Linked DNA regions of Homo sapiens: region 1 is linked to region 2. The links come from fine-mapping of genetic effects on gene expression. A gene starts in region 2. The other region holds a variant in brackets. All regions are shown on one strand. Distances are between the middles of the regions. Region 1 overlaps CAPZB (capping actin protein of muscle Z-line subunit beta). Region 2 holds the start of SLC66A1 (solute carrier family 66 member 1).

What was found. PIP is the estimated chance that this variant, and not a neighbour inherited with it, causes the effect.
Region 1: its variant is the best candidate, but not a certain one, in a credible set for the expression of SLC66A1 in monocytes (Schmiedel 2018, PIP 0.56).

Annotation. Positions count from the first base shown.
Region 1 is chr1:19,348,289-19,353,798 of GRCh38, forward strand. The region is part of intron 6 of CAPZB (capping actin protein of muscle Z-line subunit beta); the gene reads right to left. Among named protein-coding and RNA genes, the nearest start is that of SLC66A1, 39 kb to the left of the region's middle. RefSeq lists an enhancer at 4,955-5,510. The variant A/AAAAGTT (reference allele first, on the strand shown) is at 2,323.
Region 2 is chr1:19,309,446-19,314,445 of GRCh38, forward strand. SLC66A1 (solute carrier family 66 member 1) reads left to right here and starts at 2,881. Exons shown (of 8, transcript NM_001040125.2): 1 at 2,881-3,444. It overlaps AKR7A2 (aldo-keto reductase family 7 member A2), which reads right to left and starts at 2,699. Exons shown (of 7, transcript NM_003689.4): 1 at 2,382-2,699. The coding sequence starts at 2,679. RefSeq lists an enhancer at 2,290-2,789 and silencers at 2,381-3,020, 3,101-3,190.

The DNA.
Region 1 (5,510 bases), 39 kb after region 2:
GACAAGGAGGTCTTGCTATGTTGCCCAGGCTAGACAGGAACTCCTGCAATCCTCCCACACAGCTGTAACTACAGGTGTGTGCCACTGTACCCTGCTAAGGCACTGGGTTTTAAAAGCCTTGAATGAGTTAGCATTCATCTGCTTAAAAGGTCTGAACACCCTGACACCAAGAAATGGGAGAGAACTAGGGCTATCCAGGCCTGGCGGTGGTGGGTGGGGAGGGATGTGTGTGTGCTAGGGGAGACACAAGAGATTCTGGCAGGGCTCTGAAGGCCTGCTGTCTGCCAGGGGAACAGACCCAACCTATGTCGCTGTAGATGGCAGAGGGGGGACCGAGCAGTGAGAGAACATCACGGCTCACTGGGCTGGACTCGGTCTGTTCTGATAGAGCTGTCCCTGACAGGCATCTGCTCACAAAGCAATGTGGTCTGGGAGACCGACGGGTCTGAGAAAACGGGTGGCATCTGACAAGGGGGGGGGGCGGTCTAGGTGAGGGCAACAGTCCAGAACCTGCTGCCTCCCAAGTCATAACAGTAAATATCTGCAGAAAAAAGACATCTGGTTCTGGCAAGGCTGTTTTACTGAGGACTAGTGGAAAAGAGGGAGAGAAATGCTAGAAAGACCGGCTTCTCTGCTCCCATCTGTCTTGGCATGCTCTGGCAAGTCATCCTGAGGAATCTCGACCCTCAGACCCCAGGGGGTCTCCATAAAACAGGAGTAGTGAGAGTGCCCATGAGCTTGAGAGTCACAGTTCTCATTTCAGGTCTAATAAACACACCAACCTCGGCAGCACTGGAGCGTCTGCTGGAACATCATCTTTATCTGCCACTAGCAAAACCCTGGTGCCAAGACGACGGGGTGGGCTGTCTGCTCAACAGGAGCTGGGGAGCACCCTCAGGAGGGAGGGGGCTCCATCCACCCAGCTTCAAAAAGAACTTTTGCATGCTGGCCCCCGGGGACTGTGTGTTCTCCCAGACGTGAAGGTGGTTACTGTGCCTAGGCTCAGGGCTGGGTGGAGTCAGCTCGGCAGGCAGGGAAGCCTGGGGGTTGGATGGAAATGAATGAGGTCCTTCCAGCAAATCAGAGTCTCTCCTCCTCCCCGGCTCCATGTGGACGGCAGATTCCCGGCCACCCTAGGGAAGGGATGAGGGTTTTGAGCTCACTGTGGGCCCCATTTTAAATGGGCACCAACAGCCCAAAGAGAGGCCGCGGCCATCGGCAAAGGTCCTGGGTCACCTGGGCAAGTCCAGTCACATCAGCAATTTGGCCTCTTGGTTACCATCTTTGTGTTTCAGAATCAAGAGCCATCTTAAAACAAACAGGCGAAACCCCTTGGCCAACAAAGGTAGGAGAGGTCGGGTGGAGGAGAGGGCTGGGTCTTGCAGTGTGCGACACTGTCCCCAGGAGCAGACTGATCCCCTAGAACACAGGCCCCCTCAGCCCATGGCAGGGAAGCTGAGCCCACGTAAATGGCCACGCAGCGGCTGGGGAGGGAAGGAGAAAGGTGCTTGGGGAGTGAGGGGCACAGGGCTCGGTGCACCCGGCCGTATTTCCACAGCCCCCTTGCCCGCCCCTGCTCACTCCCCTCCACACCTGGTCAGGGTCGGCTCGGTGGCAATACCAACCCACCAAAAACAGAACCATTTGTGCACTGCATATATTATTACATCCTTATAAAAGTGGCTGCCGGAAGGAAAACATTTTCATGTGTTGTGGCTGCAGATGTTCCACGAGGTGGTTCCAATGGCGTCTGAAGCCGGAGCCTGGCCCGTGTGTCCCCAGCAGGCGCCTCTCCTCCTCCCCATGGCCCTAACACAGGCAAGTGTTTGGAAGCTGGCAGCCTTTCCCCCAGAGGGGATGTATTACACCTCCCACTGCCACGTGGCATCTTCTAGCGCGACCCGCAGGGCGTGGCCCTAAGGCATGGGCCCCACTCACCGGCGCTGAGGCCCCGCAGCTCCTGTGCTGCAGCCCGAGAGGAAAGGGCCTGGGCTTGTCTAGGCCTCCATGTCTTTGCCTTCACCTCGCACTAAATAAACAAATGTACACAAAAGGCCTAGAGCGGGACTTGCCAGAATGGCAGCTCTCACCGATTGTCAAAGCACAGCTCCATCCCCAGCACTCTTCTGGCCTCTGGCATCCTCCTGGTCACCACACTGTGCTGTGGGTTGGAGGTCAGGACCCGGCGTGCAGCCAGGCCAGAAGATGGTGGTCAGACGGCTTCCCAGGGAAAGTTACGGTTGCCCAGTTTAGGAAAATTTTGAATCTAGAATTGTACATATTCAAAAAGCCTCTCCTTGCAAGATATATGGTAGTAGCAGT[A/AAAAGTT]ATTGTTTTTATTTTTATTTTTGAGACAGGGTCTGGCTGTGTTGCCCAGGCTGGAGCACAGTGTTGTCACCACGGCTCACTGCAACCTCGGCCTCCCAGGTTCAGGCCATCCTCCCACCTCAGCCTCCTGAATAGCTGGGACTACAGGCACACTGCTGCCTCACCTGGCTAATTTTTGTATTTTTTGTAGAGAGATGGGGTCTTACTTTGTTGCCCAGGCTGGTCTCAAACTCTCGAGCTCAAGTGATCTGCCTGCCTTGGCCTCCCAGTGTTGGGATTACAGGCATGAGCCATCGCGCCTGGCAAAAGTTATTATTTATTGAGCATAAAACTGTGTGTAAAACAGTTTTTTGTTTCTACTCTACAATGATCTTTCCTTTTTTTTTTTTTGAGATGGAGTCTTGCTCTGTCGCCCAGGCTGGAGTGCAATGGCGCGATCTTGGCTCACTGCAACCTCTGCCTCCCGGGTTCAAGTGATTCTCCTGCCTCAGCCTCCTGAGTAGCTGAGATTACAGGTGCATGCCACCACACCCAGCTGATTTTTGTATTTTTAGTACAGATGGGGTTTCACCGTGTTGGTCAGGCTGATCTCGAACTCCTGACCTCGTGATCCACCTGCCTTGGCCTCCCAAAGTGCTGGGATTACAGGCATGAGCCACTGCACCCGATCTTTCCATTTTTTTTTTTTAATAAAATTTGTTTATTATGTTTTTTAGAGACAGGGTCTTGCTCTGCTGCCCAGGCTGGAATGCAATGGTGCAATCATAGCTCACTATAACCTCAAACTCCTGGGCTCAAGTGATCCTCCCATCTCAGACTCCCAAGAAGCTAGGACCACAGATGCCACCCTACCCAGATAACTTTTTGTTTTGTTGGGAGGGGTGAAGGGGTGGGGGGCAGTGCAACTGTTGCCCAGGTTGGTCTTGAACCCCTGGCCAAACAATCTTCTTGCCTCAGCCTCTCAAAGTGCTGGAACTATTATCTTTCAAAATGGGCATTATCAACACTGAGTTTCAAAGAGGTGGAGGTCTGTCTAGGTCACACAGCTGGAAAGTTCCTGAGCTAGGATCTGAATCAAGGTCTGGGTGATTCTGAAACCTGCTTCCTTTTATGAGATCTCTCTGCTGGCTCAATTTCACATACATCCTTTACCAGAAAACTGAAGGACAAACCACAATCCAGGGCTCAGAAAACCTGAGCAGGGTCCATCCCTGCCTCAGCCGCCTCCTGCCAGGGATCTCCGGTCCCTTCGTCTCCTGTTTCCGCCCTTCACAGCACGGGATGGTTGTGGGGAGCCTGTCTCAGGCCAGCTTTCCTTCTCAGCCAGGCACTGGTCACTCCACCCCAGGTCATCTGGCAAAAACCCAGACGCCCCTTGAAGCTGCGCTGCTCAAGCATCTCCACCCCTGAACCCAGGCAACCCCACAGGACACGAGGAGCGGGTGTGCAGCTGCAGCCAGGCCTCCCCAGCGAGCGTGCACTCCTGGAACTGCCAAGCTGGGCCCGGCCCACCCTCTGTTCCCTGCATCTGGAAGGGCAATGGGCTTCTTCCCTGTGACAAAAATATACTGCCTGGCCTAACTGCCAAACGCAAGTCAAAGAGGATGTTCCTGCTAGGATACACAGGCAAGTGCCTCTACTGGGGATTTACTGCCTGAAGATATATTGGGGGTGTCTCTGCTGAGTGGGGAGAGACTGCTCACTAGCCAATGACCTGCCTGATCTCCCCACTCAACAAAACATTCCACCTTCATTTCTAAATATTTAGAAGCTGAGAAAATATCAAACGAACATCTGCAGGGCCCTTCCCCGGATGGGAAACCTTGGATCTCTTTCCAGAGATTTACAATCTCGCCTCTTTCCCACGTCTCTGCTGTCACATAGGAGAAGTGACCTCTCAGTACAACTTCCTTTTCAACATTTTGGAACTTGGGGCTTGCAACCTTTTTTCGCTTGCTCTACAACCCTCCCATGGGGGGCCACGTGGCAGTGTACCAGAGGGTACCTTCTGCCCGCCTTTCCTCACACACATCCACAAGCCTGGGCAGGAAGGTATGATCCGGCCGGCCTGCGGCTCACCTTCACTCCGACAGCCTCACTGCTGCGGGAATTTGCCAGAATACTTTAGCTGTTTACCTTGTCTTCCAGTTGACGTCCCTGAGAAACATCTTTTGGTGGTTGGAGGTGGGAGAAGTAAAAGCCGAAAATGATGGAGGCAGGGCTAGGTGGAGGCAGCATCGCCTGGTCTGGCTGTGTTCTGGCTGGCTGGCAGGCCACGTGCCCAGGAGAGTGGCGCTCTGCCCCGGCCACTGGCCTACCACCAGCCGCCTACACTGGGGCACGAGTGGGCACAGGGCATAGCCTGATGTGCCCACGGAAGGGACCCCTGCGAGGTGCCAGCAAGCCAAAGCTGGCGGCCTTCTCCAGATGGGCCGTGGGAAACAGGAAGACAAGGGTGCGCCCGGGGCCACACACAGGGAAGGGCAGCTGCCGCTGCTGCCGGGGTGAGGCAGGCTGGGCCACAGGACCCTGGGAAAGCTGAGGACCCATGGGGCCTTGCTGAGGGTGCTGATGCTGGCTGGGATGGCTCTTGGGGCTAGGGCCTGGCACTGTGGGCCTGGGGAGACAGCTCCAAAACCAAGCAGCCTTCCTTCCTGACACACGTGGGGCAAGGGCATGTGAGCGTGGGTGACCTGGATGAGGCCAGGTTTCCAGAGGAAAAACCCAGGCCCAGGTTGCTGTAAGGACTGTGTAAGGAGGAACTCGAGTGAGGGGCTCTCATCTGACCCCCACCTCACATCTTGGTCGTCCAGCCCCTGACCACGCCACGCCAGAATGCCCCCCAGCCTGCCCCTCTTCCCCTGCCCTTCTGTTTCTGCCCTTGCCACCTCATGCCTCAGACTGACACTAGCTTCTTCACTGACCTCTCTGCTGCAGGGCTGTCCCCTCTGACCCTCCCAGGGCTGCCTGATCCAGGCCCTTGTCATCTCTCTCCTTGATGACTGTAACAGCTTCCCCCTGACCACCCATCCCCCAAGCCGACTGGCAGAGCCACCTTCTGAAAACACAGATCCAATCAGATCATTGGACTCCCTAGAAACCTCAAAGCCCTCCTGACAGCCTCTAGTAGTGAACACACCCCAGTGGCCAAGTGGCTTCCAGCAGGAGATCATCCTGAAAGACAAAGG
Region 2 (5,000 bases):
AGCTTAGAAGGCAAACTGAGCAGAATGTAATTATAATTCTCCCCTCCCCTTCCTGACTCACAGAAGCATGAGCATATATCCAAACACTGTAGGGACACATCGCTATGACAACAGTGTTCTGCATCCGAGCAGCTTGGAAATGAGTTAATTCTGCACTATTCTTTCCCCTATAAAGAACCCCAGCTGTTGGTCCAGATGTAGTGGCTCAAGTCTGTAAACCTAGTTTGGGAGTACTTTGGGAGGCTGAGTAGGGAGAATTACTTGAGCCCAAGAGTTTGAGATAATCCTGGACAATGTAGCAAGACCCTCCCTCTACAAAAATAAAAATTAAAAAAGAACCCCAGCTGGGCCAGGAAAGGTAGCTCACGCCTGTAATCCCAGCACTTTCGGAGGCTGAAGTGGGTGGATCACCTGAGGTCAGGAGTTCGAGACCAGCCTTGGCCAACATGGTGAAACTCTGTCTCTACTAAAAATACAAAAATTAGCCAGGCGTGGTGGCACGTGCCTGTAACCCCAGCTACTTAGGAGGCTGAGGCAGGAGAATCACTTGAACCTGGGAGGCAGAGGTTGCAGTGAGTCCAGATTGTGCTACTGCACTCCAGCCTGGGCGACAGAGTGAGACTCTGTGTCAAAAAACAAAAAACAAAACAAAAAAAAAGAACCCCAGCTGTCTGGATTGGTTGGGGGATGGATTCTGCACTTTTCATACTTAGCAAAGTCAGCTCAGTAGCTCAGAAGGGTGTCACGAGATCAGTTGGGATATGGGACAGAACAAGTTCCACAGTTTCTCATCCAGATTTTCTCCATTTCCCCACAACGCCCCAGGCATTCTTGGCATGAACTGTGCCTCAGGCCTGGCCTGAGGACTTTGGTTCAGTGAGCTCCTGGCCCCAAAGACGGAAGCGGGGAAGGGTTAGAGAAGAAAAACCAACTCAGGAACAAAATCTTCATTATTAATAGTATGTAACGTGGCCGGGCGTGGTGGCTTACACCTATAATCCCAGCACTTTGGGAGGCTGAGGTGGGCAGATCACTTGAGGTCAGGAGTTGAAGACCAGCCTGGCCAATATGGTGAAACCCCATCTCTACTAAAAATACAAAAATTAGCTGGGCGTGGCCGTGTGCACCTGTAATCCCAGTTACTTGGGAGGCTGAGGCAGAGGTTGCAGTGAGCTGAGATCGTGCCATTGCACTCCACCCTGGGTGACAGAGCAAGATTCCGTCTCAAATAATAATAATAACAAAAACAACAACATGCAGCCAGGTGAACTAGAAACAGCGTGGGCCTGAGATTCACATTTGCCCTCTTTTCCCCCCGACCCCCCAAGCGCTATGACTCAGGAGGACCCAGAGAGAACCTCTCCTCAGGGGTGGGGAGCAACAGCCTCAGGATAGTCCAGTGGGTGAAGCATGGTAAGGGTAACAGCCCACGTTCCCTGGGCCCTCACTGAGTGCCAGGCACCCTCCCAAGGGCTATCAAGGGCACCAGGCTCACGAGGGACAGTCCCCTCCATCCTCCACTCAAGCCCCACCTGCCCAGTGGCCTTCCTTTCACACATCACGCACATTGCATTTCCAAACCAAGTCTTTGCACAGACTCTAATGTTCCTTTCTCTTGTTCTCCTCCAACCTACCATTGAGCCTTTAAGGCTGAGCTCCATCCAGCATTTGCTGAGCCTTCCCTAGTGCCTCTCCCCGGCCTGCAGCTCCCTAAAGTACTCTCTCTTCTGGGCTCTCCAGCAATCATTACTTCAATCTTCCTCATTAGACTCTGAACTCCCTGTGGAGGGCTGGAATCACTTTCCCTCCTATGGCCCCAAGTCAAAGCCTGGCATAGAGTGGATAGAAAGTCCCTACACCCTGACCCGTCCGCACTCCCTAACACTCCTACTCTCCCAGCCAGCCTTACGGCATCGCCACAGTTCTCCCTGAGAGAGGCAGAGGTACTGCCAGCTGCACAGGTCAAATTCTAGTGGTTAAGAAAAGGCCAGGATGAGAAAAGGGTGCCCAGGGTGTGCATGCGTGATGATGGTAACGAAGGGGTAGAGAAAAGGGGGAGAGCCTGGGTGGGGACCGGTTGTGGGCACCTGGCAGGTTTGGAGGCGGGGGCATCAATGGAGGTGGGAAGCGATGGGTCAGACCAGGCTGGGGGGAGACTCTCGCGCTGCAACTCCCAAGGGAAGGAGAGTGGGGGAAAGGAGTCAGGGCAAAGCACTGTCTAGTTGTCCCGGGGTTCCCAGAGCTGCGGGGTGGACCTGGGGTGGGGAGCGAGGGACGAATCCGTCGGTGCTGCCCGCGGCCGGGCCCGAGCGGGGTGGTGCACGGCTGGGGACAGGCTCAGCTCTACACGATGCATGGGGAGGATCTGCAGCTACTGTTACCTCTGCAGTCGCCACCGCCCAGCCCGAGCCCCAGGCCGCCCAGGATGGTCTCGGACTGGCCGTCGCTGTACATGAAGGCCGTGTCCAGTTCGGTGTGGCCGCGCTCCAGAAAGGCGCGCACGGCCGCGGCGCTGGCGGGCGCGTCCATGCGGCGCCCCATCTCCATGGTGCCCAGCACCGAGGCGACCCGCGGTGGCGGTGGCCGGGACATGGCGAGCGCGCGGGCCTCGGGCGGCGGAGAGCGAAGCGCGCAGTGGACGGCGGCGCGGGAGACTACGCGAGACGCGGCACTCAGCATAGCAGCGGCGCCTGCGCGTTGGGAGCCGGGGGCCCCGCCCATGCCGGGGAGGAGCGCGGAGGCAGTTGGGGGCGGGGACAACAGGCGCGGCCCCAGCGGCGCCTCCAGGCCCGGTCAGCCCAGCGCGCGGCGTGGGGGCGGGGCCTGCGGTTCCCGCGGGGGCGGTGGCGCGCGGTCAGCTGACCCGGCGGGCCTTGACCCAGAAGCTGGGCCCTGGCGGCGGATCTGGACGTGGTGAGCCGGACCGGGGGCAGGTGGCAAACTTCACGGCTGGGGGTCGGGGCTCCTGGGCTTCCCTGCCACATCCTTCCAGCCCTCTCCTCCGGCCGCTGGACTGTCCCGGCTCCTGCGCCCTCCTTGTGGCGCGATATCGTGGGACGAGGCTCCGGGCCGGGACTGGGTGGCCCTCGGGAATCCGCAGCCAGTGGCCCCCCACCTCAAAGGCGACCAGCGCGGCCTCTCGAGCTGGCCTGGCCAGGAGTTGCCCTGCCCCGGCCGACCGGCCCCTTGGCATCTGATGGCTTCGTTTTTCCCGGGCCGGCCGGGCGAGGGGCCCTCGCGGCGCTGGCCCCAGCAGCTGTCCTATCATTATCCCTCCAAACAGGCGGCCCGCGCCGGGCTGAGTCACCAGGAGGGAGCTGTGGCCGAGGACGCCGAGGCCTGGAGTGGGTGGTAGCCCCGAGCTGGGACGCTCCTCCCTCCACAATCTCCCCAGGTCTGCAGGGACCGAGGGCCTACACTGCCTCCTCCCACGCCGTGCTTAGGGTAGGTTTCCAAACGTGTAAATGGAGAGTCTGAGTCTGGAAGTGTGAGGGGTCCCGGGCCTGGGTCACAGGTCATGTCTAATCAACGCTTACTGAAGGCGCCTGTGTGCCCGGACGCTGGAGGGGCTACAATGAGAACAAATAATAGTCATTTTGGGCTGTTGGTGTTGAGTGCCAGTGCCAGGCACCCTTGTAATCGCTTGGCCTGGATTGTCTCATTTAACTCTGCAGTCAGCCTAGGTGGTGGGTATTGCATTATTCCCCTACTTTTCAGATGAGAACTACGAAGCTCAATCACTTGAGTTCCAGACTGGTAGGCATCGGGCAGGTCTGTTCCAGAGTGCTTTTCTCCTCAACCCTGGGCTGTTCGAGCTCACAGCTTTCTCCCCTTCCTTTCTCCTTTCCTTCCTCTTCTCTCTCTTCCACCCTTTCTCCTTTCTCACCCGTTTCCTCTCTTCTTCACTCTGTCCTTCTCTCTACCTCTCTCTTTCTCTCACTGTCTCTCAACATTTGCTGAACCTCTAGGTGTGTTTACACCTGGAGAATAAGAAATGCACAACCCAGGGTGGGGAGAGTACGTTTCAAAGACAGTGGTCGCAGAGGACGGTGGTAGCGTTCTTCAGGTGTGTGGACAAGGGGAGAGGAGGAGGTGGAAGGTCCTGTCCAGCCAGCTCTCATGGGGCATCTTTGAAAGGGCAATTTAGAAGTGAGTCTTCTTATCTCATGACCAGGCCCTTGAAGGGGAGCAGGACACTTCTAGGGGAAGAGATGGCACGTGCAGAAGCCTGGAGACCTGAAATGACTGAAGACGTGGGTCAGGAGGCAGGAGATAAGGTTGGGAGGGCAGTTCTTGGAGTAACTTGAGGCCTAGCCTCAGGTAATTTGGACTTCATCCTGTAGACAAAGGTGGACACATGATTGGCTGTGATCATGTGCCCGAAGCACCCTGACTCAGCTTGGGATCAGGGAGAGGAGTTTGGGTGTGGCAGGAGATGTCATCTCCAGCCCAACCTTTCTCAAAGTGCACTAGATGGAGCAGAATCGCTGGAGGGCTTCTTAAACCCAGAATCTCTAAGCCCCAGCCCAGGTGCACTGACTCCAAATTTTGAACATGCACCCTCCAAGGGTGATTCCAGGGTACCGCTTCTGGGGTCCTTCCCATCCCTGCAGGTGAGGTCAAGCTCCATTGCAACCTTGGACATCCATTTGCTCAGAGCTGTTTGAACAGGATGTGGGCCCATGCCTGGCTTCTAGGTGACAGGAACTACGCAGGATGGCCCTCAGAGCCAGGCCTTTCTGTTCAGGGATCAGGTGTGTCTCAGAGTGTCCCGAGCTCCACATTGCACATGGGTCCTGTCCAAGGTCAGGGGGACACCCACCCAGTATCCTGGATCCATAAACCAAGGTACCTTCCTCAAGACAACTCCCCAACACGCACGCATACTGGGGTGCATCCATTTCATTTCCTCCTTAACCTAGGGAAAGGGGGAAGTGAGAGAGAGGCCGCAGGGGCCATAAACCAAGGTACCTTCCTCGAGACAACCCCCCAACACACAC